Linked DNA regions of Homo sapiens. The protein of the gene in region 1 interacts with the protein of each later gene in a biochemical or structural test. Each region holds a gene or a part of one and is shown in the gene's direction. Other genes may lie near its edges. The genes, in order: RARA, SP1, UBR5, PIN1, KLF5, TDG and MAPK1.

Region 1 (3,500 bases):
AGCCCTTTGTGGGGAGGGCAGTGGGGAGGGGGCACGGGTGAGATGGTTCTGACTGTTGCACGAAGAGCCCCAGACAGGAATGGAGGGGACTGGAGTGTCCTGCCACAGGAGGCTGGGGGTGCCTTGTCCTGAGCCCAGGAAGTGGCTCCTGCTGCAAGAGTGGGTGACAACTCAAGACCCACAAGCCTGGAACCCTTCGCTTAAGGGCTGTCACCTCCTCCTCTCTGTTTGTGCCACCTTCTGCTCTTTTCATGGCAGAAGGACCAGGGAGGGGACCCCTTCTCCCTCCCACCGCCAACTCCCCTTCTCCCTCCCACCGCCAACTCCCCCTCTCCCGGCTGCTCTGTGCCCCGGAGCTGAGCAGCTGCCATTTCAATAGAATTAAAGCTTCCGAATGATAAACGTCTTGTCACAGCTGCAATTTTCTCTTCCCAAATTATCCCCCCACTCTCCCTCTCCCTCTCCCTTCTCTCCCCTGCACTTTATTGAATTTGCAGAATCGACATGAGTGATCTCCAAATTATGCCAGCTACCCCCACCTCGCTACCCCCTCCCTGAGCCCCTCCCCCACCCTCCCTTCCTCCCGCGTCAGCAGCCACCACCACCAGCCCTGTGAGTGATTGTGTGTCTGGATAATCGGCTGGTAACGACCCCATCGCTTCTTTAAAGCCGAGTGGTGTGTGCGGCTCAGCGCCCCTGGTGATTTGTCAGCTCCCCAGCTAATGGGCCAAGAGATTCTCCCCGCCAGGTCCCCCACTCTCAGGCTGGGGAGCCCTACTCCCCACTTGCCCCAGGAGCTGCTCAGAGCCAGTCCCAAGGGACCCCCAGGGAGACTGCAGCTGGGAGGGCTGGGTGAGTGGAGGCGGGAGAAGGACCTTCCTGGGGAAAGAGGAGGCAGAGCACCTAGGAGGGCACCGTCGCCTGGAGTGTGAGCTGGAGTAGACGCGTGGGGGATAGCATGCGGCTGGCTATGGGGTGGGGTGGGGGGTGTGTGCAGGGCCACAGCTGTGCTCATGGGGCTTCTGGGGCAGAACTTGATGTGTGGGTTGGGTGGGCATGGAGGGCTGGAGTGCGTGGCAATGCCTTGCCTGCCCGTGAACGCGTGCTGTGTGCGCGTGCTTACAAGCCTGGGTGACCTCCTCAGCAGCTGGCAGCTCTCTGTCAGGCTGGGGGTGGACGAGGCCCTGAGCAGCCTGCAGCTGCCCTCTTAACCCCCTCTGCCCTCCACAGCTGTGAGAAACGACCGAAACAAGAAGAAGAAGGAGGTGCCCAAGCCCGAGTGCTCTGAGAGCTACACGCTGACGCCGGAGGTGGGGGAGCTCATTGAGAAGGTGCGCAAAGCGCACCAGGAAACCTTCCCTGCCCTCTGCCAGCTGGGCAAATACACTACGGTATGGCTTTCCCCCGGCCTGCAGGGTGGGATTTGCCCAGGGCCACAGGGCCAGGATGGGCCCCTCTCAGGCACCCCTTCTTGTGCCAGGCAAGATCTCTGCGTCCTTCCCTTCCCCTCTCTTCTCCCTCCTCCTGCTGCCTCTTCCCAAGGAGCTCCCAGGAAGTGAAGGCTGGGTAGAGGGCAGGCCTGTGGGGGCTGGAGCCAGGCTGAGAAGGGGTGCCATGGAGAAGAAGGCCCTCACTCTCCCTCCTCCCCCAGAACAACAGCTCAGAACAACGTGTCTCTCTGGACATTGACCTCTGGGACAAGTTCAGTGAACTCTCCACCAAGTGCATCATTAAGACTGTGGAGTTCGCCAAGCAGCTGCCCGGCTTCACCACCCTCACCATCGCCGACCAGATCACCCTCCTCAAGGCTGCCTGCCTGGACATCCTGGTGAGGGTCTGCACCCTGGCCCCCAGGCACTGCCCCTGTGTCCTGGGTAGATGTCCTTCCAGCCAGACAGCCACCCTCCTAAATGTCTGTCTGCAATCAACCTGTCCAAATGCCCACCGCCCAAATGTCTGCCCTTCCTCTCCCCATATGTCCACCTGTCCACTCGTCTCCCTGTCCACTCAGCCACCTAGCAGCCAGATGTGCAGGAGCTCACCTGTTCACCCATACACATATCCAGCCACCCAGCCATCCATCCATTTAGCCAGTAATAAAGATTCACGTAGGAGCCAGGTGCAGTGGCTCATACCTGTAATCCCAGCACTTTGGGAGGCCGAGCGAGGCAGGAGGATCACTTGAGGCTGGAAGTTCAAGACCACCCTGGGCAACATAGTGAGACCTTATTTCTGCAAAAAACTAAAAAGATTCACCTAGGATCCTCTGGCCAGTGTTCGAGCTGGGTGTCAGGAACCCAGCGGTGAATGCACCACCATCCCCTCTCTTGAAAACCTTCCATGTGAGGCAAGAGATAAGTCAACAGAGGTTGCAAAACTGTGATCAATGCTTCCTGGAGATTGGGGGAGGGCTTGTGACTGCTTGGGCCTGAAGGATGATGTCTCAGAGGAGGTGACATCTAGGGGTTTGTAGAGGGGGAGGTGAGAGGGTAGCCCTAACTCAGGAGCAGGAAGTGAAAGACTTGCTGCTGTGAGGCCATGCTGAGCTCAGGGGACTGCCGGGCACTCGGTGAGGTGAGCCCGAGGGTAGACTGGGCTGGAGGCTGGATGCAGGGGGTGGGGGCAGGAAGAGGTGGTGGGAACTGCCAAAGCCTAGGCTGGAGGGAGCACTCTCCTTCCTGCTGTCCCTGACAAGGGCTCGGTCCACCTGTTCCCTCTTGGTCACCTCCAGGGTGGGGAACCTGGGATTTGACGAGACTGTCATTTCTTTTTATGTTTTTCTTTTTTGAGATGGAGTTTCACTCTTGTCACCCAGGCTGGAGTGCAGTAGTATGATCTTGGCTCACTGCAGCCTGCAACTGCTGCCTCCCGGGTTCAAGCGATTCTCCTGCCTCAGCCTCCTGAGTAGCTGGGATTACAGGCACCCGCCACCACACCCGGCTAATTTTTGTATTTTTGTAGAGACGGGGTTTCACCATGTTGGCCAGGCCGGTCTCGAACTCCTGACCTCAGGTGATCCTCCCGCGTGAGCCGGCAGACTGTCATTTCTCCATGGGCACCTCTGAATGTTGAGGCGGGTGATGGGTGGGAGGTTTAGATTGTGCTGCCTGCAGGGGCTCCCATCCCCATGCCGTGGATGCAGGAGGTGCCGTCTGGGTTCCTGCAACCACATTCAAGCCAATACACATTTACTGAGCGCTTGTTGTGTACCTCATCCTGGGAGCTGTAGGCAGCAGCCCAGTGTTCCTTAGCTCCTAGAAATTCTAGGTCCCCTCTACATTCTTTGCATGTAGGCAGGATGACCTGGACCTGCACTATCCAGTACAGTAGCTGCTCACCACATGTGACTCTTTAAATTTAAATTAATTAAAATTAAACTCAATTCAGTTCCTCAGTTGCATTAGCCACATTTCAAGTACTCAGTAGACGCATGTGGCTGGTGGCTGAGGTATGGATGGTGCAGACGTAGAACCTTTCCATCATTGTAGAAAATTCTATCA
Region 2 (3,500 bases), on another chromosome or scaffold:
GCCCAGGCTGGAGTGCAGTGGCACAATCTTGGCTCACTGCAGGCTCCGCCCCCTGGGTTCACGCCATTCTCCTGCCTCAGCCTCCCTAGTAGCTGGGACTACAGGTGCCCGCCACCTCGCCCAGCTAATTTTTTGTATTTTTAGTAGAGACGGGGTTTCACCGTGTTAGCCAGGGTGGTCTCGATCTCCTGACCTTGTGATCCGCCTGCCTTGGCCTCCCAAAGTGCTGGGATTACAGGCATGAGCCATGGGGGCGCCCGGCCTTTTTTTTTTTTTAAGACAGATCTTCATCCGGGTACGGTGGCTCACGCCTGTAATCCCAGCACTTTGGGAGGCCAAGGCGGGCGGATCACCTGAGGTCAGGAGTACAAGACCAGCCTGGCCAACATGGTGAAACCCCATCTCTACTAAAAGTACAAAAATTAACCGGCGTGGTGTCAGGTGCCTGTAATCCCAGCTACTTGGGAGGTTGAGGTAGGAGAATTGCTCGAACTTGGGAGGTGGAGGTTGCAGTGAACCGAGATCGTGCCGTTACACTCTAGCCTGGGCGACAGAGTGAGACTCTGTCTCAAAAAAAAAAAAAAGAGCTTCGCTCTTGTTGCCCAGGCTGGAGTGCAACGGCACGATCTCGGCTCACTGCAACCTCCACCTCCCAGGTTCAAGCAATTCCTCTGCTTCAGCCTCCCAAGTAGCTGGGATTACAGGCATGTGCCACCACGCCTGGCTAATTTTGTATTTTTAGTAGAGATGGGGACCATGTTGATAAGACTGGTCTTGAACAATTTTTGTATTTTTTAGTACAGATGAGGTTTCGCCATGTTGGCCAGGCTGGTCTCGGATCCCTGACCTCAGGTGATCAATCCACCTGCCTCGGCCTCCAAAAGTGTTGGGATTACAGGCGTGAGCCATCACTCCCAGCCCCTAGAAACCTTTTTAAAAAAGAAGGCTTGGCCGGGTGCGGTGGCTCACGCCTGTAATCCCAGCACTTTGGGAGGCCGAGGTGGGTGGATCACAAGGTCAGGAGATCGAGACCATCCTGGCTAACATGGTGAAACCCCGTCTCTACTAAAAATACAAAAAATTAGCCGGGTGTGGTGGCGGGCACCCATAGTCCCAGCTACTCGGGAGGCTGAGGCAGGAGAATGGCGTGAACCCGGGAGGTGGAGGTTGCAGTGAGCCAAGATTGCGCTATTACACTCCAGCCTGGGCGACAGAGCGAGACTCCGTCTCAAAACAAACAAACGAACAAAAAAAAGAAGCCTTGGTCCAGTGCAGTGGCTCACGCCTGTAATCCCAGTACTTTGGGAGGCGGAGGTGGGCAGATCCATCACCTGAGCTCAGGGGTTCGAGACCAGCCTCGCCAACATTGCGAAACCTCATCTGCACTAAAAATATAAAAATTAGCTGGGCATGGTGGTGTGCACCTGTAATCCCAGCTACTCGGGAGGCTGAGGCAGGAGAATCGCTTGAACCTAGGAGGCGGAGGTTGCAGTGAGCCGTGATCATGCTACTGTACTCCAGCCTGGACGACAGAGTGAGACTCTCTCAAAAAAACAAAAAAGAAGACTTTTTCAAAAAATAAAAGTTTGGGTTAGTTTGGTGTCGATTGGGTGATTGCTGTTGATACTTTGTGGTTCTTTAGTTTTCTCTAGAATGAATGATTAACAGTTGTGTCCTCACTTTCAGGGGCTCGGGGGATCCTGGCAAAAAGAAACAGCATATTTGCCACATCCAAGGCTGTGGGAAAGTGTATGGCAAGACCTCTCACCTGCGGGCACACTTGCGCTGGCATACAGGCGAGAGGCCATTTATGTGTACCTGGTCATACTGTGGGAAACGCTTCACACGTTCGGATGAGCTACAGAGGCACAAACGTACACACACAGGTGAGCAAGAGCCTATGGGAGAGAAAAATAGTAATAGACTAGAATGAAAAACACAAAATATACCTACAAAATAACTAAAATTTCTGAGCAACTTAATTTGAAACTGAATATATGGGTCACAAATGGAATTGGAGTTAATCTGGAAAATTTTTAAGAAGGAAGGAGGGGCTGGGTGCAGTGGCTCACGCCTGTAATCCCAGCACTTTTGGAGGCCGAGGCGGGCAGATCACGAGGTCAGGAGATCGAGACCATTCTGGCTAACATGGTGAAACCCCGTCTCTACTAAATATACAAAAAAATTAGCCGGGCATGGTGGCAGGCGCCTGTAGTTGCAGCTACTCAGGAGGTGGAGGCAGGAGAGTGGCATGAACCTGGGAGGCGGAGCTTGCAATGAGCCAAGATCGTGCCACTGCACTCCAGCCTGGGCGACAGAGCGAGACACTGTCTCAAAAAAAAAGGAAGGAGCCAGGTGTCGTGGCTCATGCCTGTAATCCCAGCCCTTTGGGAGGCCGAGGTGGGTGGATTTCTTGAGGTCAGGAGTTCAAGACCAGCCTGGCCAACATGGGGAAACCCTGTCTCTACTAAAATTACAAAATAGTCAAGCGTGCTGGTGCACACCTGTAATCCCAGCTACTCAGGAGGCTGAGGCAGGAGAATTGCTTGAACCTTGGAGGCGGAGGTTACAGTGAGCTGAGATTGTGCCACTGCACTCCAGCCTAGGCGACAGAGCAAGACTCTGTCTCAAAAAAATAAAATAAAATAAAATAAGGAGCTAGATTTTGAGTGGGATTTTTGAAGGTGAAGCATTGAAACCATTACTCTTAGTCTCTGCCCTGCCTTACTTTTAAAACTGCTAAGTTCTACCTTCCTTACCGAGTACTCCCCAACCTTTATCTAGTTTTCTTCCTCACGCCCCCGCCAAAAGGAAAATATACTTGAAGTTTTTTGTTTTTTGTTTTTTTTTTGAGACAGAGTCTCTGTCGCCCAGGCTGGAGTGCAGTGGCGCGATCTCGGCTCACTGCAAGCTCCGCCTCCCGGGTCCACGCCATTCTCCTGCCTCAGCCTCTCCGAGTAGCTGGGACTACAGGCGCCCGCCACCACGCCCGGCTAATTTTTTGTATTTTTAGTAGAGACAGGGTTTCACCGTGGTCTTGATCTCCTGACCTCGTGATCTGCCCGCCTTGGCCTCCCAAAGTGCTGGGATTACAAGCGTGAGCCACCACGCCCAGCCACTTGAAGATTTTTCTTGTTTTTGATCACCTTCTCATACTGGCCTTACTCAGCTTAGTAGAGTAAGCACTGAATTGGGTAAGGTAACCTCACTTCCTAACATGTCAGCTTCTTATCTTTTCTTCCTTTACCTAGGTGAGAAGAAATTTGCCTGCCCTGAGTGTCCTAAGCGCTTCATGAGGAGTGACCACCTGTCAAAACATATCAAGACCCACCAGAATAAGAAGGGAGGCCCAGGTGTAGCTCTGAGTGTGGGCACTTTGCCCCTGGACAGTGGGGCAGGTTCAGAAGGCAGTGGCACTGCCACTCCTTCAGCCCTTATTACCACCAATATGGTAGCCATGGAGGCCATCTGTCCAGAGGGCATTGCCCGTCTTGCCAACA
Region 3 (3,500 bases), on another chromosome or scaffold:
AGATTAACAGCAGGGTGTAGAATAGCCAAGCAAAATAGAAAATCAAAACAAAGGCAGAGCAATTTTATAAATCAGGATATCTGTGACTGAATCATAGGCCTAGGAATAAACAGACACTTGTGAAGAAAATTACAGGATACACAGGAATACGACTAGGAATAATAGGTGAAATTAGGAAAGGTCAGGGTTTTTTCCCCTAACAATTAGACCATTAGGTTATTTAGGAAATAGTTTCCAAAGGAAAATTTAATTGCTGAAGACTGAGTTACATGGACGTAGATCTTATAAGGTATATTAAAGGAAGCAATTTTATGTTACAGGAGGATGTACTTAATGTCTCCCCTCCCTCATTTTATCATACATATTTATTTTGTTTTTTGAGTCTCGCTCTTGCCCACGCTGGAATGCAGTGGTGCCATTTTGGCACAATCTTGGCTCACTGCAACCTCCGCCTCCCGGGTTCAAGCGATTCTGCTGCCTCAGCCTCCTGAGTAGCTGGGAGTACAGGCGCACGCCACCATACCTGGCTAATTTTTGTATTTTTAGTAGAGATGGGGTTTCACCGTGTTGATCACGCTGGTCTTGAACTCCTGACCTCGTGATCTGCCCACCTAGGCCTCCCAAAGTGTTGGGATTACAGGCGGGAGCCACTGCGCTCGCCCATATTATACATATTTCTAATTAAGAAAACAGACTCTAGTTAGCATCCATGTTTCTGTCATTTTGACTCCTTGGCATTCTGGTCATGTGAAAATAGCCTCTTCTCTTGGCTCACTGTGGTTATGAATTGTTGGTTTATTTTTAGAACTGGTTTTTAAGTTTTCCCCTGAGTATTATTTTTAAGCCTTTTATTTTGGAAAATTTTAAGCATATACAAGAGTAGAGAGAATAGTATGATGAACAACCATGTTCCCATCACACAGTCTTAACAGTTGTCAACTCATGGCCAATCTGATTTCAACTCTCTCCCCATTTATTCTCCTCTATCAGGTAATTTAATTGCTGTATCTTCACTATATATTTCAAAATATGAAGCCTTTAAAAAAAAACCTGAAAAAACCTTAATAACAAAATTGCCCAGATTTTCCTGTTGTCTCATAAATGCTTATTTCTGATTGACAATTTTGATAATTTTACTTAATAAAGCTGATTGGGTTCTAACATGTTAAAAAATTTGACATTTGTAGAATAACCTTAGAATTTGGATTGTAACCTTAGAAGAAGGGGCCACTGGGGAATTATTTAGTTCCTTAAAGCTCAGTGCTGTAACTTTTTTTTTTTTTTTTTTTTTTTGAGATGGAGTTTCGCTCTTGTTGCCCAGGCTCGAGTGCAGTGGCGTGATCTCTGCTCACTGCAACTTCCGCCTCCCGGGTTCAAGTGATTCTCCTGCCTCAGCTTCCCAAGTGGCTGAGATTATAGGTGTGAGCCACCACGCCTGGCTAATTTTGTATTTTTAGTGGAGACGGGGTTTGACCATGTTGGTCAGGCTGGTCTCGAACTCCCGACCTCAGGTGTTCACCTGCCTTAGCCTCCCAGGGTGTTGGGATTACAGGCGTGAGCCACTGTGCCAGGCCTCAGTGCTATAACTTCTTAACCTCCGGTATGACAGCATTTTTTGTCAGCAGTCACTTGTAATTGTTAGATAAGGATGATAAGACAGGATTCTTGAAATTCAGTGATTTTTCCATGGGGTCACTTTGAGAAATAAGATTGTCATGTGAAAAGTTTGCAGCATTTTCATGAACTAATAGACAGGTGAGGTATTAGTCAATTGAACTTGGCTATAAGAAATTATTCTCTGAGATCATATTTCTTATTACTTTCTTGAGACAATCAGTGTAGTGGTAACAAAACCCCTTCCAAATTAGAAATACGATAAATTCTTAGATAACCATGCTTTGTAACATTGTCATTTTGTCAGGATATTAAAGAAGGTATTAATATTTAATGTTATTTTACTTGTAAATACACAATTTATGTTACTTGCACAGCTAAAGTACTGTTATTTGTTCAATTTCTGACAGTATCACTTAATAAAATGTCTTTGACTCTTTCATCTTTATTGAGTTATACTTTACATTCAGTAAAATTAACCCATTTTAGGTGTACAGTTTGATGAATTTCGGCAAATGTGTACAGTTGTGTAATCACCACCACAATCCAGGTACAGGACATTTTCATCACCCCAAAAAGTTACCTGGTTTCCCTTTGTATTTTCAGTCACTTCCCCCTAGGCTAGGTCCTGGCTACCTAGCAACCATTGTTCTGCTTTCTCTCACTGTAATGCTTTTCCTTTTTGAATTTCATAGAAATGGAATCATGTGTCTGTTTTCTTTTGCTTAGAACAGTGCTTTTGCAACAGATCTGTGTTGCAGCATGTAGTAGTTTCTTCTTTTATATTAAAAGTAGTATTTTCATTGCTTGACCTGGGAAGGTGGAGGTTGCAGTGAATCAAGATTGTGTCATTGAATTCCAGCCTGGGCAACAGAGTGAGACTCTGTCTCAAAACAAACAAAAAAAGTAGTACTTATTTCATGACTGTACCACAGTTTTTAAATCTGCTTTCTAGCTGATATAAATTTGGGTAGTTTACTCTTTCTAGCTATTCTCTAGTCTTTATTTTTTTCTTGTTTATTTATTATTTTAATTTTTTTTGAGACAGGCTCTTGCGCTATTGCCCAGGCTGGAGTGTAGTGATGTGAACATGGCTCACTGCAGCCTTGACCTTCTGGGCTCAAGCGATCCTCCTGCCTCAGCCTCCTGAGTATCTGGGACTACAGGCTTGCATTACCACATCTGGCTAATTTTTAATTTTTTGTAGAGATGGAGTCTCTCTGTGTTGCCCAGGCTGGTCTCGAACTCCTGGGCTCAAGCAATTATCCCGTCTCAGCCTCTCCAAGGTGCTGGGATTACAGGCATGAACCACTGTGCCTCGCCTTATTTATTTCTTTAAAATTAGAGACATGGTCTTGCTGTGTTGCCTAGGCTGGTCTCAGACTCCTGGCCTCAAGCTGTCTTCCCACCTTGGCCTCCCAAAATGCTGGGATTACAGGCAGGAGACACCATGGCTGGCCTGAAGTTTTTCTTGGCTTCAATTTATCACAATGTTTTTCATAGGAAAAGTCCACTGATAATAAAAACCTAGATTTTTCTTGACAGCAAATTTTTGTGTTAATTAAAAAACATACTAGTATATGTAAAAAGATTATATTTTAGAATTCCATTAAATGTAATGGTTGTATTCTAGATTGCTAGTTATAAAGATGATGATAGTGGCTAGTCGACAAAGCACTGTGATGAATGGATCAGTAGATAAGTTTTTATTTTCTTCCCCATGAGTTCAGGCTCCATTTCTGTGATATAGAAGTGTCGAGAACCTGCCGTTTCAAGAAATTGGCTCTGCTCCAGCATGAATCTGCTGTTCAGAATTCAGGCGATGAGGTATTCCAGGTCTTTACTTGAATTCAGATACCAGGTCTACCTCACAGACAACCTGGAAC
Region 4 (3,500 bases), on another chromosome or scaffold:
TATAAGAGTGAGCAGGAGGGTGCAGGCATTTGGGGATGGAGCGGCATGAAGTGGGCTCCTGGGGGTCAGCAGAGCAGCCAGGCGCAGGACAGAGCTGCTCCAAGCAATCCTGATGAGAGCTGGCAGAAGGCTGAGGTCGGTGGGGATAGTGAGGAGGGCATGGGTCTGGGTGTGGTGGGCGAGGGTGTCTCGCCCATCTCTGGGTTGGACAGGTGCACCTGGTAAGTAGCCAGGCCCTGAGGCGTCACCGTAGGTACCTGCAGATTCTGGAATGTCAGCAGGAGCCTTGCCTGCCCACCTGGTGGAAGCTGTGGGAGGAATTGGAGCAAGAGGCGGTGTGACTTGAACTTGGGGGCTGGAAGTGGAAGAAGAAGTGAGAGGGAGCAGACCCGAGAGAGATTCAGGAGGCAGGATAGAGAGGACTGGGTGATGGATTAGGTGGGCAAGGGTGGGATGTCTGGGGGAGGGTCAGGGCAGAACAGCGTGGCCCACCCTGGGCTCGTACAGGGCTGGATTTCAGTGCCAGCTGTGTGGTCTTCATTTCCTGAGCCTCAGTTGCCTCATCTGTAGAATGGGGAGAGGGTGGCTATGAGGATCCAGGAGCTATGGGCTCAGTGGCTGGCGTGCTCTGCACGGTGGAGCCTCAGCCCCAGTCATTGGGGTGTGGACGATGGGGGAGCTGAGGTCAAGTCAAGGCCTCTGCTCACGGGCAGCCCCTGCTGCCACCCCACAGCCCGTAGAAAGAGTTCCGGATAGGACCACAGGAGGCCTGGTGGGCTCAGCACACAGATGATGACCTTGGCACACGACCTCCCTCTCCTGGTATCCTCCTGCCTGAGACGGTGCTGGGGCAGATCTCCTCAGAGGTCGATAGGAGGATGCAGTGAGGTGGCCCCGGCCGAGGTACACTCGGTAACAGATCATCATGTGCAGTGTCGGCGCAGGCATTGGGCACCTGGGCCTCATTTTCTCTTCCATGAAGTGGATGTTCTCCCCTCGAGGGTTCATGCCGGGTGATCAGGAGACCATGATTTGGGCAGCTCACTCCCCAGCTGGCAGCCGGGCTAAATCTCATCAGTGCCCATTTAGATCTGGTGCTCCGCCCTTGCCCCGAAGGGACAGGCTGCCTGCAGAGAGAGCCGGGACCTCCACATTTTCTGCTGAGGCTCCTTTTCCCAGCATTGGCTCCTCTGCAGCTGCTGGGCCACAGCCAGAGGCTGTCAGAGATCCAAGGGAGTCATTGCCAGTGTCCTTGTCTAAGGAGGATGGGCCATGGAGAAGCCCTCCCTGCCCGCTCTCCACCCAGATCTGTTGACAGCCACCCCTCACATGCCCAGGGCCTGGAGGGTCCCAGCAAGGCTGAGACTATGAGCAGCTGTCCTACTCACATACCCATCCCAGCATCCAGGTCAGCCCCTTTGTCCTGGGGTCCTCAAGGTCACTGGCGCCCTTCCAGCCTGCTGGCCTTGGGCCAGCCTCTAGCCCCTCCTTCTGGATCTTGGTCTTCTCAGATCTGACCCTGTCACCTCTTTCCCCGACCAGGCCCCTTCCCCTCTGGTGCCTGGGCAGCCTGGGGGAAGTATGCTGGAAGCAGCGTAATGATCTGGCAAGGCAGAGGAGACAGCACGTCTTGAAACATTTTTGGGGTCAAGGACTACCCCATTTGTTCCCTCACTCCCACCTAGGTCACTGATGTGCATTAGCTTGGACTGTTGTAACAAAATATCACAGACAGTGTGGCTTAAACAACAGTCATCACTTTCCACAGTTCTGGAGGCCAGAAGTCCACAATCCAGGTTCCCTCAGATTCTGTTCCTGGCGAGAACCCACTTCCTGGCTTGTAGACGGCTGCCCTCTCACTGTGCACTCACATGGCATTCCCCAGGCGCATGTGCACGGAGTGAAGGAGCACGAGCTCTCTGGTGTCTCTTATAAGGACACTAATCCTGGCCAGGCGCAGTGGCTCATGCCTGTAATCCCAGCACTTTGGGAGACTGAGGTGGGTGGATCACCTGAGGTCAGGAATTCAAGACCAGCCTGGCCAACATGGTAAAACTCCATCTCTACTAAAAATACTAAAAAAAAAGCCAGATGTAGTGGCGCACACCTGTGATCCCAGCTACTCAGGAGGCTGAGGCAGGAGGATCGCTGGAACCTGGGAGGCAGAGGTCACAGTGAGCCGAGATTGTACCACTGCACTCCAGCCTGGGTGACAGAGCCAGATTCTGCCTCAAAAAAAAAAGGGGCGCTAATCCTGTTGGATCAGGGCCCCACCCTTATGACCTCATTTAACCCTAGTTACTTCCCCAAAGTCCCCATCTCCAGATGCAGCCACACTGGAGGTTAGGGCTTTAACACATGAATTTGGGGTGACACAAACATTGAGTCCATAACGGATGGGCAGCTTGGATCTGTCAGGGGCCTGCTCTGCAACAGCCACTGCTTAAGCGGTCACTGATTCACTCCTTGGAACAGGCTCCAACGTGGGAGCAGCGGTTACCCCATTTTACAGGCCAGTTGAGTGAGGCTCCAAGAGGTAAAGTCACCTGCCAGACTCTCATTGTTCAGGAGCAGCAGAGGTAGGATCTGGACCTGATGGAGTCTGGAGTCAGCACCCATAACATGTCCTCCTGGACCTTGGGGATACACTGTGAGCAGGCTGGCTGGGGTCTGCCAGCACAGATAGGTGCCATTCTGTTTTGCATACTATTTCAGGGGGTCCTGAACACCTTGAAGCAGGTGGAGGCCCCTGCTCCAGACTGGGAGCTCCTGGAGAGGCCACCCTGTGTCTGTGTGGTTCTAAGCTGGAGCCACATCGAATCAGGATGGGGCTCCAGCACCCGACAGTCCCCATCAAATTTCACAGGTTTTGGCGCCGTCGGGCAAGGCTGACACATTGTCTTGGAGGAGGCCCAGGAAGTCTGGCCTTAGGGTCGCAGCCTGAGTTTCAGGCAGATAGGGCATGAGATTCCAGCATTTCTGCTTCGAGCCCCGTGGTAGATCCCTGTCTCCCTCCTTCCCCATGGCCTATTTCTGTCTCATTTATTCATTAACTTCTTGAACATTCGTGAACACCTGTTTTGTGCACAGTGCTGGGTTCTGAGGGTGCAGCAATGAAGAAGGCCAACCCAGCAGCCTCCATTCCTGCACTGTGAGGCGGGCAAGCAACACACCAATGGGACGGTAGTAAATGCAGCACCCAGGGGGAGGCACCTAACACAGTGGGGGATTAGGGGAGGCTTCTTGGGGAGACCAGAGGATAGCTGATGAGTTTCAGGCAGGACAAGAGGCTTAAACCAAGGTCTGCGAGGTGGGAGTCGGAGGATGTCATTGTCGCGGGGTCAGGTACAGGCTGAGCTAACAAGACACACAGGACCAAACCCCTCAAGGTCAGCCTCACAGAGCAGGAACTCAGGAAGAAAGCGTTTTTGTTTGTTTGTTTGTTTGTTTGTTTGTTTGTTTGAAATGGAGTTTCGCTCTTGTTGCCCACGCTGGAGTGC
Region 5 (3,500 bases), on another chromosome or scaffold:
GACAAACTGATTACATAAGAGGAAGGATCCTTCATAGGCAGCCCAAGGTAGAAATTTTTATAGTTAAACACAAATGAATTAAGCATGTTATAAAAACTCCAACTTAAAGTTTTCAAAATACAAATGACAAGTGCCAGGAAAATATTCCATGTAGAAATACCAAAATGTCCTTTTACAGAATATAAATGGAAATATAAAGACATTTGAACTATTGTTTTTTTCACTTTTGGAAGTCCTTGAGAGATAGGAGGGAACACATTTTCCTGGGTTTAAAGTCTCCTAATAAAAGAGCACAATTGCATATAACGATGTAATCAACTACTTATTGCAGGGATGTAGTCAAACCCATATCTGAATAGCCTTTCACCCCGTCAGGGTTTAGTGCCCTGAATGCTTATACCTGCGATTCAGGAACTTGACCTGCCGGCAAATACATTTAATCGTGGGTTGTCTTAACAATGCTTGTACTAATAAAAACAGACTGAAAAGAAGACCGAGACCTGGTTTGGGTCCCTTGCATCAGCTTTTTCACCTGACCATAAACATTGTGGCCTTCAACATCTAATGAATGAGAACATGTAATCCAGTTTAATAAAGTTTTGTTTGATAGTCTTTCAAATGCCTTGGGGAGGGTTTGTAGCAGACTTGTTCATCTGGCTAAACCTGTTCTTGGGTAATCATAGAGCATTGAGGTTGTTTTCTCCTCATTTCTCATTTCTAGACAATGCCTTTTAAAATTACCTGTTCTCTCATTGCATCCTCCCCACCCTGCCCGCCTGTTGTTTTTAAATGAATGTATCTGAAGCCAGCAAAGGTGTTTTTTTTTTTTCTTTCCCTTTAAGGCCCAGGTAGAACAGTTAGGACAGTTTTTCTAAATTACTTCTCTTATGTAATAGCTTTTTTTGGTTTTCTTTCTGTCCTCCTCCTCCCTCTCGGACCGTTGATCAGAGGACTTTAAAAACCACACAACAGTTGATGACATAAAATACTCTTTAAATGATTGTCGTTTTACAGGCAGAATGTGAAGCACCCTAGCATTTCTTTGGAAAATAATTGTAATTGCTTTAAAATGTCAAGTTACCTTATGTTTTAAAAATAATTTAGGCAATGAAAACAGCCTACATCTGAGTTTAATTACTTCTTCTGGATTTTTAGATTGGAAGTGCTTCTTTAACTTGGGTTGCAAATTGAACCTAAGCAAATAATAGTCTTAACAAAATAGAACTTTTTAAGTAATCTGAGATGACAGAGTAGATGATATATCAGTTTCTTAAACCAGAAGTATAGCATTCAAGTCTTCTAAGTTCATATACTTTGATTTCTTTATCAGGAAATCGCATATAAATAATACAAAGTTCTGTCTTCTTTGTGTGATTAGACAATACTGGAAACATTTGCTTCTATTCTAGGGAATAATTATATTTTATTTATATCTGTACATACATAGTATAGCATAAGGCCTGTAGAAGCACCCCTTATAGATGTGGATGTTCGCATGTATTATTTGTAGTATGTGTGTGTATACATTTATCATGCCTTTGGTGAGAAATAATTATGGCTGCTTCTAGGTAACAATGTCAATGAGTGGTGTATTTCCAATTCAAAATATTTGTACTTTTAACAGCATTTAAATGAACATTGTACTGAAATTTGTATGCCTCATGATGTCTACAAGGGGCGGAACACATTGCTATTACTCTAAAGTTGCTCCCAAGTATACTGTTTTGTCTTTATAAATCAACATGACTGATAAACTGTCTATTGCAACCAGTATTATATGCTCACATACCTTACTTTTTTCTTTAATATAATGAACATTTAAAATAATGTCTAAGTTTGCAAAGGTTTGAGGCAAGTTGAAATCAGTAGGAAAATATATTGACTGTATCTTCAAACAAAAATTTGTAGAAATTTAAAAAGTTCTTACCAGAGAAAAAGTTCTGAAAAAGTAAACCATGAACTCAACACAGATGTTTGAAGTCCTAGCGGTTCCCTTCATGTGCGTGGATATACACTTAACCTTAGAGAATATGGAAAAGCTGTTGGGAAATCAGGGTACGGTAACGTTTCTAGATTTTTTCTTTCTTTTTTTTCCCCCGTTTCAGCTATCTGGAACAGGGCAAGAAATTAGCATTTGTACAAAGAAAGTCTTTGAACAACACACACTTGGCTCAAGTATTCCTCAGACCCAGACTCCATGCATTGGACTCTGTGTGTACTAAGTGATCCCAGAGTGGCTTACTGGAGATTGACAATGGAAAAGGACAATTTGAAACACGCCCGTAGGAGAAAATGGAAACATTGTACAAATAACATAGGAACACAAAATTCACTCTTCTTTTTTTTTTTTTTTTGAGATGAAGTCTCGCTTTCGTCCCCAGGCTGGAGTGCAATGGTGCGATCTCGGCTCACTGCAACCTCCACCTCCCAGGTTCAAGCGATTCTCCTGCCTCAGCCTCTCAAGTAGCTGGGATTACAGGCGCCTGCCACCACGCCCGGCTAATTTTTGTATTTTTAGTGGAGACGGGGTTTCACCATGTTGGCCAGGCTGGTCTCGAACTCCTGACCTCAGATGATCCACCCGCCCCAGCCTCCCAAAGTGCTGGGATTACAGGCGTGAGCCACCACGCCAGACTCACAAAATGGACTCTTAAAGCACTGTGTTCAAGATTCCCTGTTTAGGAAAGATTTCCACATTAAGTCCTGGAAAGATTTTTAGTGGAAGCCTAGTTTGTAAAGGGGTTACATTCCCATTTTCTGCCTTACTGTCTTTTGCAGAAGACTTTATTGCCTACTGACATGTGTAGTAAGATGTTATTAGTTATACTTCGTATAATCTGTACTTGAGATTTGCTGCTGAATATATTGACTTTCAGTTTGGGTACTAAAAGATCCTTAGATATGAATTTCTTTTCTAGGGCCTGGCACAGTGGCCCACACCTGTAATTCTGGCACTTGGGAGGCCGAAGCAGGTGGATCACCTGAGTTTAGGGGTTCGAGACCAGCCTGGCCAACAAGGCAAAACCCCATCTCCACTAAAAATACAAAAATTAGTCAGGCGTGGTGGCACATGCCTGTAGTCCCAGTTACTCAGGAGGCTGAGGCAAGAGACTCGTTTGAACCCACGAGGCGGAGGTTGCAGTGAGCTGAGATCGTGCCACTGCACTCCAGCCTGGGCAACAGAGTGAGACTCCATCTCAAAAAAAAAAAAAAAAAAAAAAATTCCTTTCTAGGTCTTTGCTCCAAAGTCATTTTTCATGGAATATATTAAACATAGCTTTTGGTTTTAAAATCTCGATAATATTTGGCTGGGCGCGGTGGCGGCTCACGCCTGTAATCCCAGCTCTTTGGGAGGCGGAGGCAGGTGGATCACCTGAGTTCAGGGGTTCGAGACCAGCCTGGCCAACATAGTGAAACCCTGTCTCTACTAAAAATACAAAAATTAGCTGGGCATGGTGGCACATGCCTATAGTCCCAGCTACTTGGGAGCCTGATGCAGG
Region 6 (4,111 bases), on another chromosome or scaffold:
ACATCCTGAGAAAAGTTTACTCTCTTCACACACATTTTCAGTCACCAGAATTCTCTCCCAAAGCATTCAGCAGTCTTTGGTTAATGTGTCTTTCTGGATGCCCTGAAATAACTGAGGCAAGCCACCTGCTGTAAGACTTTTCTAGACGATGGTCCTGAGCCATTGGCAAAATCAGAGAGGATGGGCTTTTTTCATTCACTCAACATATATTCATTGAATATTTACCATGTGCCAGGTTCTGAGTAGTGTCTACTAATGGACAGGGTATTCATAAAAGTTCTGTACTGTTTTAAACGTTTCACTCAAACTTTAAACAGTTGATATATTACAAAAATCTTTCTGTATTTACTCACGAAAGCCTGGATCCTAGAATGAAGAAAATACATGGAGCACAGAGCCACAGCCATCTCCCAGCTCACAGATCACGTGAGTGAGAAATAAACTTCTGTGGCTGTAAACCACTGAAGGTTTGGAGTTACCTGTTACTATATGAATAAACTCAGGAAAGCCAACAAATACAGCAGCCATGTTTTTCATCATCCTGCAAACTAGAAAAACCCAAAAGCCTATTCCATTAAGAGTTCCTTAATAAAGTACAAACACCAGTGACAGAAATTGAGAACTAATGAAACAAAAGCCAGCTGCAAGAACCACTGAGACATAAAAGAGGGGTTAGTCTGTAAGATTACGAACCACTGAGATTTAAAAGAGGGGTTAGTCTGTAAGGTTATGGGAGGTGATGCTCGAATGGGATCTAGTCTCGTAGACGTCAAACGTTAATATTCTCATATATCCAAAGTAATGCGGAGAGTGGTTTATGTAGAGCTTTACATTTTACATAGCAGCTTTACATTCACCCTCATTTCACAGATAAGGAAACTGAGGCCCAAGATGGCACAGTGGCCTCGACGCCCAGGTTTTCCACTTTCAAAGACCCTCCCTCACATCTCATTACCTGATAATGCAACACAGTCTTTAATCGGGGCGAATTTCGGGGTGGAAAGGACTAGATAATGCTGATAAGCGTCATCATCCCATATACACAGCACCCCAAGGACAGCACCCTATCGCCCACGCGTCCACCAGCCCCCGAAAATACTGGAGACAAAAGCTGACGTCGGCAGAGCGCTCCTAGTCCCCGTCTTCTGGTCCTCCACCCTTCCCGAAAGGCCAAGCGGCGGAGCTGGGGCGCCAACGAGAAGGGGGTGAGCGTGATTGGGCTGTCCTACATCACGTGACGGCCAGTACGCGTGGGATTTGGCTCCGAGGAGGCGGAAGTGCAGCACAGAAAGGGGGTCCGTGGGGGACGGTAGAAGCCTGGAGGAGGAGCTTGAGTCCAGCCACTGTCTGGGTACTGCCAGCCATCGGGCCCAGGTCTCTGGGGTTGTCTTACCGCAGTGAGTACCACGCGGTACTACAGAGACCGGCTGCCCGTGTGCCCGGCAGGTGGAGCCGCCCGCATCAGCGGCCTCGGGGAATGGAAGCGGAGAACGCGGGCAGGTAATACCGGGGCCAGCGCCGCCCCTCCCTTGCGCCCCTCACTGCTGGGCAGGCTGGCTGGCGCGCGCGCGCGCACGCAGGGGTCTTTTAAATCCCGGCCGGAATACAAAGGCCGGGGCCGCGCGTGCGCACTGTGGCCTGGTCGGCCTTTCCTTCCCTGGCTGCGGCGGTGGTGGTGGAGGTCGGGGCTGCTCTGAGGGTTACCTGGTGCACCTGGACCCTTCTTTGGTTCCCCGCGATAACCAGTTGACTATAAAATATATTAGTAAGCATTCAGCAGTCTTTGGTTAATGTGTCTTTCTGGATGCCATTCTTGGCTAGAAGGGTTTTCCGTCACCCTCCATTACCACGCAGAGAGCTGTAAAGATGAGTGTCGAACATTTCCAGCTCCAGGAGTTTTCATTTTAAAGTTGGTTGATTTGTTGCGGCTTCCCCCCACCCCAAAGGCCTACTGAAAGCAACTTTAAGGGTCACGGGTTAGATAATTTTGTTGTGGGCATATGTATACACTCTCGAGTAGTCAATCTAAAAATGACCTTTGAGTTTTCCAGTGGCCTTGGGGACGATCTTAAGAATCCGTTTTTAAAAAGTCCTTTGGGGGAGTCAAGAGAAAAATTTGCAAAAGCAGGAGATTTAGGGACTTGAACTCCTGGCGGAAGACTAAATTTTTAAAAAATGGATATGGTGACAGTTTTTTAAAAGATAAAGAGTGATGATTTACATTGAAATTAAAAGGAAAAAAACCTATGCCTAATGAAGAATTATCCTGACTCTCAGTGGCTAATGGGAGCTGAATTTAGGCAATACAAGGGACTTATATGGGCCTGTTCATGTCTGTAAAGTTGGCATGTCTGGAATCTGATTCTGACATGCCGAGAATTGGTGTTACATGAAAGGGCACACTAACCAAAATAAATTAGAGCTTAGGAAAAGAGATATATGTAGACAAAGTGTGGACTTTATCTTGACTTTGTGGATCAAGTCCTGGAATAAATTACTCCACTTCTTTCCCAGAAGAACTTTACAAATAAGAGAATTCACCAGAATTTGTGGAAATCTCTCTCTCATAACCTCACTTAAGAGCAGAATTGAAACTTGGGCCAAGAATAAATTACACATTGTAAGACTTTATTCAGGGTCTTACAGCAAAATAGTAGGACTTCAATACACTGTTTAGCTCAAAGCTGTGATATGTCGGCCTGACTTCATCCAAAAGGCTATAGACCAGATTTTATTTTGCCTTGAAAAGCTTTCACCTTCAGGAACTGTGGAAAATTCTGTGTAATCTTCTGAAATGACTCAGACCCCAGGTAATCCTTAAGAGAGTAGTTCTCTGTCACCCTTGACTGTGCTAATCAAGAAATGTAATGTGGGATGTGAAAAAAAATAAATTTACTTTTTTTTTTTTTTTTTTTGAGACAGAGCCTTGCTCTGTTGCCCAGGCTGGAGTGCAGTGGCGGATCTTGGCTCACTGCAACCTCCATCACCCGGGTTCAAGCGATTCTCCCGCTGCAGCCTCCCAAGTAGCTGGGATTACAGGCACCTGCCACCAGGCCTGGCTAATTTTTGTATTTTTAGTAGAGACAGGGTTTCACCATGTTGGCCAGGCTGGTCTTGAACTCTTGCCCTCAAGTGATCCACCTGCCTCGGCCTCCCAAAGTGCTAGGATTACAAATGTGAGCCACCGGGCCCAGCCGACTTTTTTAGAAGACTAATTTCAGATATTCAAAGAAGAAAATTCAAATTCCATGAATACAGACTTTTTTTTTTGTTTTTTTTTTTTTTTGAGACAGAGTTTCACTCTGTTGCCCAAGATGGAGTACAGTGGTGCGATCACCGTTCACTGCAACCTCTGCTTCCCGAGTTTAAGCGATTCTCATGCCTCAGCCTCCCAAGCATCTGGGACTACAGGTACCCAACACCACGCCCAGCTAATTTTTTGTATATTTAGCAGAGACGAGGTTTCACCATTTTGGCCAGGCGGGTCTTGAACTCCTGGCTTCAAGTGATCACTTTGGCCTCCCAAAGTGCTGGGATTACAAGCATGAGCCAAAGCGCCCAGCCTAGACTTTATTTCAATGGCAAAATAGTTCAGGAGTCTTAGAAAGTGCTTACAGTCAATCAACCAGAGAGGAATAAAGGAGGAATTTTCTAAGGGTACTGGGGAGTTTCCCGTGACCTCAGGCGTGAAAAAGACATTTACCGAAGATGGAAAATAGGATGCCAAATCAAAAGTAACTGGAAGAGAGTAGCATGGACCACTAAGAATACCAACAGGAAAGATTAACCCTTGCATGAGAGTAGACTTTATAGAAATGTTAAGGAGACCAGGAAGGACTGTTTTGGTTAGATGTTGACAACAAGAAGAATAAAAAAGATTTGGGTTTTCTCCCCAGTCTACTGGCATGGTGGCAGCAGACAACAGAACACCTAAGTACTTTGTTCTGATTTGGATTTTACATCTCCTATGTTAGCAAAATGATTGTCTGACTGGAAATGGCAGAATGAATATCTGTAAGACTTAAAGCTCAAGACCAGTGAAGGCATTTAGGAGAAGTTTCAGGTGTTCTAACAGAATCATATGCCTTGGCCTGCGTGTGTTGTGTTTCAA
Region 7 (3,500 bases), on another chromosome or scaffold:
CCGGCTAATTTTTGTATGTTTTTGTAGGGACAGGGTTTTGCCATGTTGGCCAGGCTGGTCTCAAACTCCTGGGCTCAACTGATCCACCCACCTCAGCCTCCCAAATTGCTAGGATTGCAGGCATGACCCACTGCGCCCAGCCAAGATCCCTTTACATTTGTTAAAAATTATCAAGGACCAGCTGGGCATGGTGGCTCACACTTATAATCCTAGCACTTTGGGAGGCCGAGGCGGGTGGATCAGTTGAGCCCAGGAGTTCGAGACCAGCCTGGCCAACATGGAGAAACCCTGTCTCTACTAAAAATACAAAAAATGCACTGGGCATGGTGGCACACACCTGTAATCCCAGCTACTTGGAGGCTGAGGCAGGAGAATCGCTTGAACCTGGGAGGTGGAGGTTGCAGTGAGCCGAGATCTTGCCACAGTACTCCAGCCTGGGTGACAGAGTGAGACTCTGTCTCAAAAAAAAAAAAAAAGTCAAGGACCCACACACCTTTTTTTAGTTACGTAGGTTATATCTATTGTTATTTACAATATGAAACTTTTTTTTTTTTAATTTTTGGAGAGAAGTCTGGCGCTTGTCCCCCAGGCTTGAGTGCAATGGCTCAATCTTGGCTCACTGCGACCTCTGCCTCCCGGGTTCAAATGATTCTCCGGCCTCGCCTCCCGTGTAGCTGAGACTACAAGTGTGTACCACCATGCCCGGCTAATTTTTGTATTTTTTAGTACAGATGGGGTTTCACCATGTTGGCCAGGCTGCTCTTGAACTTCTGACTTCAGGTGATCCACCCGCCTCGGCTTCCCAAAGTGCTGGGGTTACAGGCATGAGCCACCACACCCGGCCTACAATATGAAACTTTAAAATGTATTAATTAATTTTTAAATAGTAAACCCACTACATGTTAAGATAAATTACATGTTTTTCTTAAGAATAAGTTTATTTTCTACAATAAAAACGTTTTAGTGAGGCCAGGCATGATGGCTCTCACCTATAATCCCAACACTTTGGAAGGCCAATGCAGGAGGATCACCAGGAGTTTGGAACCAGCCCTGGTGACATAGTGAGACTCTGTACAAAAAAGAAATTTATTTATTTATTTATTTATTTTTTGAGACGGAGTCGTGCTCTGTCACCCAGGCTGGAGTGCAGTGGTGTGATCTCAGCTCACTGCAAGGTCCGCCTCCCAGGTTCACGCCATTCTCCTGCCTCAGCCTCCCGAGTAGCTGGGACTACAGGCGTCCGCCACCACGCCTGGCTAATTTTTTTGTATTTTTAGTAGAGACAGGGTTTTAACCATGTTAGCCAGGATGGGCTCAACCTCCTGACCTTGTGGTCCACCTGCCTCGGCCTTCCAAAGTGCTGGGATTACAGGTGTGAGCTGCTGTGCCCTGCCATCTGTACAAAAAATTTTAAAATCAGCTGGGCATGGTGGTGTGCACCTATAGTTCCAGCCACTCAAGAGGCTGAGATGGGAGATTTTCTTGAGCCCAGGAAATTGAGGCTGCGGTGTACCGTGATCACGCCACTGCACTCCAGCCTGGGCAACAGGGTGAGACCCTGTCTTTAAAAAAAGCAAAACGAAAAACAACCTTTTAGTGAGAAGAGTGGCATTGTTTTCATTTTTGCAAGTCTCTTTAATGTCTGGCTTAATAGAAGACAGTTGGATTCTCATCTGGTTCTGCATTCAGTCTGTCAAATATGTTGTTTTGGTTTAAGTTCATGAGGAAAACTCTTTTTTTTTTTTTTTTCAGGCTTTAATCAATTTAATAATCAATATAATATTACATGCATAGTTCTTCAAAAATGTCAAGGAAAACTCTTTCCCATGGATTTTAACTGCTTGAATTCAGAGCATAGAAAACAGAAGAAAACTTGAGTGCAATATTAATAAAGACCCTTTAAAAAAGATGTTATATAAAAAGAAAAATCGCAAGCCAGTGAAAAATACATGCAAAATTCTAAATAACATTTTAGCAAACAAAATCTATGCTTAAAAGCATAACACACAAAAAAGTGAGATTTTTCCCTAGTATGTAACAGTAATCAGACATTTTATCAAGACATTTACAAATAAGCCTAAAAATAGATGTCTGAGTGCTATTTATGAAATTCAAGATCTATTCCTCCCATCCAAGCACTAACCAGGCCAACCCTGCTTAGCTTCCGAGATCAGACAAGATCGGGCGTGTTCAGGGTGGTATGGCCAGAGGAAAACTCTTCACACAGGTATGTAGCTGGAAAAAGGAGGGAAATTTTAGTAGTCTTTTCAGCCACTTGTGGCTATTCTTTGATCCTACCCCCAGTTTAAACAAGTGGTGGTTTCTTAAAGGTTAATTGCAGTGTGGAATCTGAAATCATATCAGTGAATTCTTGATACTATTTCGTTAAAATCCATTAGTCTACCTTGCACTCATACTCATGCATGATTTTTTAGCGTATTTGGAAAATACTGGTTCACTGAGTTACACAGATATTCCAAGTGTCACATTTTCATGTACACATCATCACTCATCATATTGCATCTGGAAAAATCTTCTTTTCACTCGTGACTGAAAAGGATGAAAATGTCATAGTAGTATAATAAATGTACTGTGACCTCTCAGATCCTCTAGAGGGAACCCATAGGAGTCTCTGGAACACTCTTGTAGAACCGCCAGATAGAACTCCTAAATACCCTTTACCCCAGATTCAGGCTCACCGATTTTTTATCTTTTGCCCCATTTGCTTTATCATTCTTTGTGTGCATGTGTGTGGGCACTCCCACGCACTCTGAGTCATTTGAGAGTAAATTGTAGATACACCCCTTCACCTTGTTTCAGTATGTCTTTACTTCAAACCATGGTCCTGTTGTTCCCTGGGGACATGTGGCAGGGTTGTCACAGTGAGGGGTAGGGGTACTCCCTGCATCAAGAGGCCAGAGATGCTGCTAAAAATCCTACGATATACAGAACAGCCCTCCAAACAGAAACTTTCTCAGCCCAAAATGTTAGTCATACCGAGGTTGAAAAACCCTGCCTTAAGAGTATTCTCTAACATGACCACAGTACAGTTTTCAAAATCAAGAAACTTAATACTGATTCAGTATCTAATGCACAGTTTATATTCACATTTTAGATATTATCCCAATAACCTTTGAACTATACCCCACCCAAACCACCCCCCGACCTGGGCACAGGTTCACATGTTGTACTGTCATGAGTTTTGTTTGTTTGCTTGTTTGCTTGCTTGTTTTAAGACCAGGTTCGCAGGCCAGCCACAGTGGCTCACACCTGTAATCCCAGCACTCTGGGAGGCCAAGGTGGGTGAATCACATGGGGTCAGGAGTTCGAGATCAGCCTGGCCAACATGGCAAAACCCTGTCTCTGCTAAAAATACAAAAAATTTAGCTGGACATAGTGGCAGGCACCTGTGATCCCAGCTACTCAGGAGGCTGAGGCAGGAGAATCGCTTGAACCCAGGAGGTGGAGGTTGCATGAGCTGAGATCGTGCCATTGCACTC

Evidence for each region.
Region 2: the proteins of RARA (region 1) and SP1 form a complex in vitro, tested with the Homo sapiens proteins (2 studies listed by BioGRID).
Region 3: the proteins of RARA (region 1) and UBR5 form a complex in vitro, tested with the Homo sapiens proteins (one study listed by BioGRID).
Region 4: the proteins of RARA (region 1) and PIN1 form a complex in vitro, tested with the Homo sapiens proteins (one study listed by BioGRID).
Region 5: the proteins of RARA (region 1) and KLF5 form a complex in vitro, tested with the Homo sapiens proteins (one study listed by BioGRID).
Region 6: the proteins of RARA (region 1) and TDG form a complex in vitro, tested with the Homo sapiens proteins (one study listed by BioGRID).
Region 7: of the proteins of RARA (region 1) and MAPK1, one has a biochemical effect on the other in vitro, tested with the Homo sapiens proteins (one study listed by BioGRID).

Annotation. Positions count from the first base shown.
Region 1 is NC_000017.11:40,350,680-40,354,179, forward strand, and holds part of RARA (retinoic acid receptor alpha), read left to right. Parts: intron 1-1,230; coding exon 1,231-1,391; intron 1,392-1,651; coding exon 1,652-1,828; intron 1,829-3,500. UniProt on the Homo sapiens protein: Receptor for retinoic acid. Retinoic acid receptors bind as heterodimers to their target response elements in response to their ligands, all-trans or 9-cis retinoic acid, and regulate gene expression in various biological processes.
Region 2 is NC_000012.12:53,407,676-53,411,175, forward strand, and holds part of SP1 (transcription factor Sp1), read left to right. Parts: intron 1-1,686; coding exon 1,687-1,886; intron 1,887-3,251; coding exon 3,252-3,500. UniProt on the Homo sapiens protein: Transcription factor that can activate or repress transcription in response to physiological and pathological stimuli.
Region 3 is NC_000008.11:102,402,701-102,406,200, reverse strand, and holds part of UBR5 (E3 ubiquitin-protein ligase UBR5), read left to right. Parts: intron 1-3,500. UniProt on the Homo sapiens protein: E3 ubiquitin-protein ligase involved in different protein quality control pathways in the cytoplasm and nucleus. Mainly acts as a ubiquitin chain elongator that extends pre-ubiquitinated substrates.
Region 4 is NC_000019.10:9,841,818-9,845,317, forward strand, and holds part of PIN1 (peptidyl-prolyl cis-trans isomerase NIMA-interacting 1), read left to right. Parts: intron 1-3,500. UniProt on the Homo sapiens protein: Peptidyl-prolyl cis/trans isomerase (PPIase) that binds to and isomerizes specific phosphorylated Ser/Thr-Pro (pSer/Thr-Pro) motifs.
Region 5 is NC_000013.11:73,065,505-73,069,004, forward strand, and holds part of KLF5 (Krueppel-like factor 5), read left to right. Parts: intron 1-3,500. UniProt on the Homo sapiens protein: Transcription factor that binds to GC box promoter elements. Activates the transcription of these genes.
Region 6 is NC_000012.12:103,964,561-103,968,671, forward strand, and holds the start of TDG (G/T mismatch-specific thymine DNA glycosylase), read left to right. Parts: upstream 1-1,311; 5' UTR 1,312-1,477; coding exon 1,478-1,500; intron 1,501-4,111. UniProt on the Homo sapiens protein: DNA glycosylase that plays a key role in active DNA demethylation: specifically recognizes and binds 5-formylcytosine (5fC) and 5-carboxylcytosine (5caC) in the context of CpG sites and mediates their excision through base-excision repair (BER) to install an unmethylated cytosine.
Region 7 is NC_000022.11:21,791,146-21,794,645, reverse strand, and holds part of MAPK1 (mitogen-activated protein kinase 1), read left to right. Parts: intron 1-3,500. UniProt on the Homo sapiens protein: Serine/threonine kinase which acts as an essential component of the MAP kinase signal transduction pathway. MAPK1/ERK2 and MAPK3/ERK1 are the 2 MAPKs which play an important role in the MAPK/ERK cascade.